Homo sapiens: one gene and its partner. The protein of the gene in region 1 purifies or fractionates together with the protein of each later gene. This does not show direct contact. Each region holds a gene or a part of one and is shown on either strand. Other genes may lie near its edges.

Region 1 (3,500 bases):
CTCTGGGAAACTACTCCATTACCTCAAGAAATTTAGTGATGGGAACAGCTATTATGCTGTTAACCTTGATTTACTCTTGGACAATCCAAGACCCTAAGAGGCAAAGTGATGCTTTCAGGTTAAAACACACACACACACACACACACACACAAACACACACACACACACACACACGCTGTGTTTTGTTGTTGTTAAGAGGTTAAGAGACAGGATTTCACACACACACACACACACACACACACACACACACACACACACACACGCTGTGTTTTGTTGTTGTTGTTAAGAGACAGGATTTCATTCTGTTGCCCAGGCTGGAGTGCAGTGGTGCAATCATAGCTCACTGCAGTCTCAAACTCCTGGGCTCAAGCGATTTTCCTGCCTCAGCCTCCCAAGCTGGGACTACAGTTGTGCACACCATGCCTGGCTAATTTTTTTGTATTTTTAATAAATACAGGGTTTCACCATGTTGGCCAGCTGGTTTCAAACTCCTGACTTCAAGTGATCCGCCCACCTTGGTGTGAGCCACTGTGGCCAGACTAATTTTAAATTTTTTTGTAGAGATAGAGTCTCAGTATGTTGAACTCCTGGCCTCAAGAGATCCCTCTACCTCAGCCTCCCAAAGTACTGGGATTGCAGACATGAGTCATGATGCCCAGTCAAAAAAAAAAAAAAAAAAAAGCTTTTAAATACAGGAAAGATGTTCACAACTCCAGAAAAGTATTTTGTCTATTAACTTTGTTACTCCTGAAACTGTACCTCAGACCCTTTTCTTTGCATGTTCACACTCAACGAGTTGGTCTTTCTTAGGTCAATGTAAATGCACAGTAGTGATATAAATAACAGTTTCTGCTTCTGTCACCATACCTGCTGTACCACTACTGAGAAATAAAAGAAACTCTTTAACTGTGGAATGTGAGCCCCCTTTAAATTATCAGGCCCAGAGAGGCATTGGAATGAGACAGTAGTCATGTCTTGAGCTAAGTAATAATTTTGAAGCCCTTGTTATGTGGGCTCTGGACTGACACAACCAATAGCTATATATTAACCTTACAATGCCCTCCACTAGACATTATAACTCATACTCTGTAGTTCAACAATGTATAATTACTAATCAATGTCATTTCTGCAAACCAATGAAAATTACTGAAAAGCAACTTTTGTACTTGCCCCCTCTCCTGATTCATCTTTTTTCTTAAAAACTCCAGCCTCTCTTTTGCTCTCCAGAGTGCTTCCCAAGGTTACTCTGAAGTGTTTCCCAGGCTGCAGTCCTCAACCTTGGCCCAAATAAACTCCCTACCTATATTAATTTGCCTCAGTTTCTTCCTTTAGGTGACACTTCTATTTCAAAATAAGGGTCAAACTTTTTCACTTAGATGAACACCTAAGAAAGGACACAGACTCAGAGCAGTTTAAATTTACAATTCTTGAAATGCTTTTAGCAATTAAAAGAACACATTAGTTCAAAGCTTTTAAAATATTTTACCTTGATTTAATGATCTGATTAAGTTGATCTATTTAACTTTAAAAGTTTACATTGATAACTATGTTACTAAAATTCTAATCAGATTCAACACACTTAAATATTTATCATATTTTATTTTAATTTGATTTTACATTTATTTTAAAATAGAATCTACATTTATTTAAAAATAAACTCAGCCAGGCGTGGTGGCTCATGCCTGTAATCACAACAATTTGGGAGGCTGAGGTGGGAGAATCGCTTAAGGCCAGGAGTTCAAAACCAGTTTGGGCAATATACTGACACACCATCTCTACAAAAAATTTTAAAAATGAGCCAGGCATAAAGGCGTGCACCTGTAGTCCCAGCCACTCAGGAGGCTGAGGTACAAGGATCCCTTGAGCCCAGGGGTTTGAAGCTGCAGTGAGCTGACTGTACCACTGCACTACAGCCTAGGTGACAGAACCTCTAATAAATAAATGAATATCATCAAATCAAATGTTTTGGAATTTTTCACAAAGTATCTGTAATATTGCTTAGATAAAAATATTACCTACAGGGTAGAATTGCAGTATGTTAAGAATGGTCAGATTTTCATTTTGGTTTCCTTGCTTAAATGGAAGGTCTTATTTACCTAATAGTACCTGATCAAACAACAAAAGTTGTCTTCAAATTAATGCAACTATTAAAATAGTACTTTAGATAGTTTGAGAAGCCAATCCAATAAAGGGCAACCATTTTTCATTATAACTCTCAAATGCCCTTAAAATATTTACTTTTATATGTGTATTTATATGTGAAACAGCATTTACAATCGTCCTTCCACCTGCTTTTATTCACAGAGAGGTCTTACTTGTCAACATAAAATTTCCATGATAAAATCAAATACAAGAAAATTAGAACTTTCTGACAGTCTGGTTGGATTAAACACAAAGTCTTATCCTGGATGTATTTCTTACAGGTTTAATGAAGAGCTCTGGATTCACAGCACGAAATAAGGTTGTTGTGCGCACCCCTCTGAGCCCTGGGCTTTGAAACTCTTTCTCTTTGGGTGGTTCCTTTTTGAATGTTGGAGGCTCAGGTGCTGAAGACATCTTGATCAATGATGATTTATTATCTAAAAACAAAATAATATATTTTTTCCCTTCATAATTGTGCTTCTCTGATAAATTTCTTTAAAAAGTAATTCTTAAATTCCTTCTTTGAATTCCAACCCAGATACATACCAAATGTGATTGTCAGTTATCTTATTACTTTGTATAATGTACTTTGTAAATGGTGCTTTAACTTTAATTTGTTAATTTTGTTCATTATTTTAATTTTCATCTCAAAATAAAAGTGGTGGGCAAAGGTTGTTTTCCTGCTTTTATAGAAGACTGGAGAATTGTTTGTTGCTCTGAGTCACGTCGTATCATATGCAACCAAGACTATGAGTAGGTGAGGCCAGTAGGTTATCCGTTCCTTTCCTTAGTTCCTTGCTTTCACTCCTCCTCACCTTTCAACAGCCCCTCCATAACACCAACCTGAGAGAATGACCAGCATTCCTTTGCTCATTATCTTCTCCTACAGATTCACTCCTGGCCAGTTTCCCCCACTGCTCCTCTGTCTTCCTCCACTAGCCCACACACGAACTCATTTTCCCAAGCAGTAAGGATAAGGAGCTGTTTGTACTTACTCTTCCATTGCCAATCAGCAACTTTCTGGGTAGGTTATGCCCTGCTATCTCCTTAATCTGAATATCCTTTTTTATCTTAGCTACTGTAAATCTATCCTATTAAATCCAAGTGTGTCTTTTGTCTTCTTGTTTTCCTAGCTGAAATGTCAGCACTTTGGGAGTATTTTTCTCTTCTAGGTATTATTAGGCAAAAGCTTATTTTATCCTCTCTGCCATCTAATGCTGGGATGGGAGGTGAGGGTTGAAAGAGGGGAGGTAGAGAAAGAAAGCTTCCAAAGATGGACATAAATGACAATATAGTAAAATTATTTGGGGGAAATGCTGCAATCGCTGTACAGTAAATGTTATAAAATAAAAGTTAAG
Region 2 (4,151 bases), on another chromosome or scaffold:
GGTGAGCTGACTACAGTGGTTGTGTTCATAAGCCCTGTCCCAGGATCCTGGGACTGCAGATGGGGGCAGGAGGTAGTTCACACCACTGGTGGTCATCTCAGATGGCAAATGGAAGGAATTGTTTTTCTTTGAATAGTCATGGAAGTACTGCATGTATATATTTTAAAAATTGGAACCAGCTCATCGGTGCTGTGATTTCACAGGTATTGGGCACAGGGCCACACCAACGCAAGTCTTCCAAACACAGGTTTAAAGAAAAGTGTTAAGGAGCTCATTATAAAGTAATTTTCATTTGTAGCAAAAATCGGGATGGTGACTGTGGCCGTGCTGCAGTGTGGGTGACATTGAAAACCACAGTATCAATTCCCCACTGCACGGGTATTAAAAATGAGTGGGGAGTGGAGGTGGGGTGAAAGCCTGGGGTTTGGGACGCGTCTGTAGGTGGTAACTCCCCGCATTACGTCCCCTCCAATTGCCAATCCCCCAACCCCGTGGCTCACGCTGTTCCCTCCTGTTAGCTTTCAGGTCCTCCCTGGTTTCACAGGGACTTCTCCCTCCTGGGCTCTCATCCACCACCCCTGGGCCTCTGTAGAGCTCAGCTGTCCCTACAGTGAGGCAGGTGCCTAAAAGCAGAAGATCTGCCTAGCTGTGCAGCCTTGCCTGGCAGCTCTCCTGCTCTGGGCCTCTGGGGCTGCCCAAGTTGGGCCATGGACAAGGTGGGCACTGTCCAATCCCTTGCGTTTACCTTTTTCCAATCGGTGTACACGACATCTGACTTGGGAATGCGCAAGCAGTCGAGAGCTTCGTAGAACTCTCCCAGTTGCTCCTTGGTCGTCTCTGGCTTGTCAGCTGCAGGGGGAGCAAGGAGACTGACTGGGGACATGGTGGGGCCCGGCGGGAGGCCAGGGAGGGCTGGGGTTCTAGGGGCCAGCCCAGGGGTGGGTGAATGGGGGGTGAGGCCTGAGAGGGGCATGAGTTTGGGGCTGCTAAGCATGCCTACCATAGACAGACAGCCCCCAGTTCTTCTCATCGTTCACGTCAAAAGCAAGCATGTAGGTCTTGGTGTCCCTGAGGATCAGCAAGTGAGCGAAATGCTCTTGGCCTCCCACTGGAAGAGAAAAGGAGCCTCTGGGTGAGAACATGGGATGGCACAATGGTGTCTGTCTTACAGGTGAGGAGGCCTAGGTGTGTCAGTGGCCACACAGCCCATCAGTGAAGGCCCAGGGCTCCTTTGGGCCACCGTGTGCCCAGCCCCTGCTGCATGCCCAGCTCCACGCCAAGCACTTTCTGTACATGAGATCTCAGGAGCCTCACACAGACCGTGGCTGTCAGGGCCTTTCTCCGTTTTACAGATGAGGAAAATGAGGCCCAGAGAGGAGGCTCGGGATGCTAAATGGTGTCAGTTCAGCTCCATCAGCTCCCTGCCATGTGCCACCTCTGCGGTGATGGGGGACATAGTTGAAGGTACCACCTCTCCAACATACAGGCTTCTACCATTGGTTTGCAAAGGATCTTAAAGAGGGCATGAGAGAGAGGCAGATCTGAAGCCAGCCTGGAGTTCCAATTCTAGTTCTAATTATAAGCTGTGTGACCTTGGGGAAACTATTTGAGGTCTCTGTTCTTCTTTTTCCTCCTCTAATTCTCTCAGTGTCCTCTTAGAGTTGTTTCTGAGCACATCGTTAGAGCTCAAAAATGTTAGTGGTTATTTCTCTGTGCCCAAAGCCTCCAGGGCTCTACATCCAGCCCCCACCTTATGCTGGCCTGCCCTGTTCCCACAGTGAACCCTCCTGCCTGAGGGCTGGCCCTCACCGTATCTGGAGATGGTCCCATTTTCCCGCTGGACATTCAGGTAGGTGGTGTTATAGATGCACTGGTCCTGTCTAAAGCCAAACAGAAGGCGGAAGGAAAACAGGAAGATTATTGAGAAGTGGCCAATCGCCCATCACAGTCCTGGGGCAAGAGTCTGGTGGAGATTAAAGCCAGCCCTCCCGGTTCCACCCATGGGAAGGCCAAGGCCAGGAAGAAGGAGGGACTTGCTCAGGTCTTCTGGCCAGAAGCTGAGATGGGGGTGCATTGGAATGGGGGCTCTCACCGGGTCTGGTACTCTCTGAGAAAGATCGTGTCCTCTGTCTTGTTGGGGGTGAAGTAAAAGAAGGTTGCTTGGATCTCCTGAACCGACTTATTGTACTCCTCGTTTCGAAAGGCCGATGCGATATAAAACCACTTGCCAGTGATCTGGGGAGAAGGTGGGAGCTGGTGATGGGGGCTTGATGCTGAATCTTTGACTGTCAGCTGGGAGGAGACTCAGGCAGATCTCTCCCTGATTTTGCAGATGGGGAGATGAGGCCCCTGGTGGGCAGTGCGCATGCAGGAGCTCACCCTGAGGATCAGTCATTGCCCCCCAGGCAGCCCCTCCAGGCCCAGCACAGAACCGTCCTCCGTGAAGGACTCTGCAGTGAGGCTTCTGTGTTTGGAGGCAGGGGGTGCCTCCAGAGTCCCCTGGGCTGGTGAGAATTTCACCCTGGGGACCCAGAAGAGAAAAAGGCAGAGCCGGGAGTGGGGGTCCGACCACAGCCAGCAGGGAAAGGGAAGCCCAGAGAAGGGAGGCAGCTGCCCATGTGCTCAGGACAGGGCTAGCCCAGGCACTCACCCGGTCCAGGGTGGCGTTGGTGATGGGCACCGGTACTAGGTTGGCACACAATGGGATCTGGGCTTCCAGCAGAGGTAGGAGGCTCAGGACTGTAAGAACCCAGGACAGCGCCATACTGAGACCAGGAGGCACGTGGAGCCAGGCAGTGCTGGTGGCTGCAGGGTGCAGTCACCTTTATAATAAACTATGGGCGGTCACTTGGAGCCCAGCAAAAGTTTACTCTGTGTCTGTGACACAATCCTGCCAGCACTTGGGAAATGCCTCGCACAAAACCTCCCCCAAAGGCCAGCTCGGAGCACCGCCTCCAAACCCAGGTCTAATTTGAGTTCCTCACATGGAGAGGTTACAAAAGCCCTAGAGTATGGCTGCCCAAGGCCAAGGTGGGTGCGGGGCTGCAGCAACATTAGTAAACGTGTGAGTCCACAGATTTCCTAGAGAGGCCTCCCGCAGAGGAATCTCATGTCTTCATTCAATTCCTATCCCTCTGAGTGCCAAGACTTACTTCAGTGGGACCCAGCCACAAACCTAATGATGAAGCCACCTTTGAGGGTCCCCAGGCTGGCATGGGATGTATGTTGTGGCGGGGAGAGTTGGGGTGAAGGATGCCGGGGAAGACAAACATAGATTCAGTTCCACTGAGTGTGGCAACAGCTGTGTCAGAGCCAAAGTTCATTGGGGCCCCAACCCAGCCCTGGACGCAGGCACATTTCCAAAAAGGGACATCCAAGTTGAATGTCTATTTCCAGTAAATATACTACTCGAAGCATCTCCCAACATCTCAAACAGGAAACTGTCTCCCTGTTTTCCCCCATTCCCTGCCATCTGAGCAGGCAGCTTGCTTCTCTTTCACCAATACGCCCCCAATCCTGGAGCAGTGCCCAGCACTTCAAGGGCACTCGGTATATTCTGTGGAATGAGTGATTCCGTGGCCCATTTGTGTTCCTACCTCACGGGTCAAGTCTTTATTTGTATGAATAAATACTTTCAGAAAGTATTCATTTTTTTTTTTTTTTGATACGGAGTTTCACTCCCGTCCCCCAGGCTGGAGTGCAATGGCTCAATCTCGGCTCACTGCAACCTGTGCCTCCTGGGTTCAAGCGATTCTCCTGCCTCAGCCTCCTGAGTCGCTGGGATTACTGGTGCCCTCCACAACGCCCAGCTAATTTTTTTTGTTGTTGTTATTTTCAGTAGAGATGGGGTTTCTCCATGTTGGCCAGGCTGGTCTGGAACTCCCGACCTCAGGTGACTCACCCGTCTCGGCCTCCCAAAGTGCTGGGATTACTCAGAAAGTATTCTTACGGTATGATTATAATTTTGCATTCTTATTCATTTCATTCTGAATAACTTTCATATTTCAGTGTAGTTTGTAGTTAAAAGCTTAATGGACCCAAGATGGGAGAGTCACCTGAGTCCTGGAGTTCAAGACTAGCCTGGGCAACATAGTGAGACCCTATCTTTACACAAAAATATTTAAAAATTAGCCAGGTCGGCCAGGCGCGGT

Evidence for each region.
Region 2: the proteins of SMIM8 (region 1) and ORM1 purify together in Homo sapiens (affinity purification with mass spectrometry; one large-scale study listed by BioGRID and IntAct). This does not show direct contact.

Annotation. Positions count from the first base shown.
Region 1 is NC_000006.12:87,336,088-87,339,587, reverse strand, and holds part of SMIM8 (small integral membrane protein 8), read right to left. Parts: intron 2,580-3,500; 5' UTR 2,557-2,579; coding exon 2,422-2,556; intron 1-2,421.
Region 2 is NC_000009.12:114,321,747-114,325,897, reverse strand, and holds the start of ORM1 (alpha-1-acid glycoprotein 1 precursor), read right to left. Parts: upstream 2,801-4,151; 5' UTR 2,765-2,800; coding exon 2,651-2,764; intron 2,236-2,650; coding exon 2,093-2,235; intron 1,881-2,092; coding exon 1,810-1,880; intron 1,109-1,809; coding exon 1,001-1,108; intron 850-1,000; coding exon 746-849; intron 1-745. UniProt on the Homo sapiens protein: Functions as a transport protein in the blood stream. Binds various ligands in the interior of its beta-barrel domain. Also binds synthetic drugs and influences their distribution and availability in the body.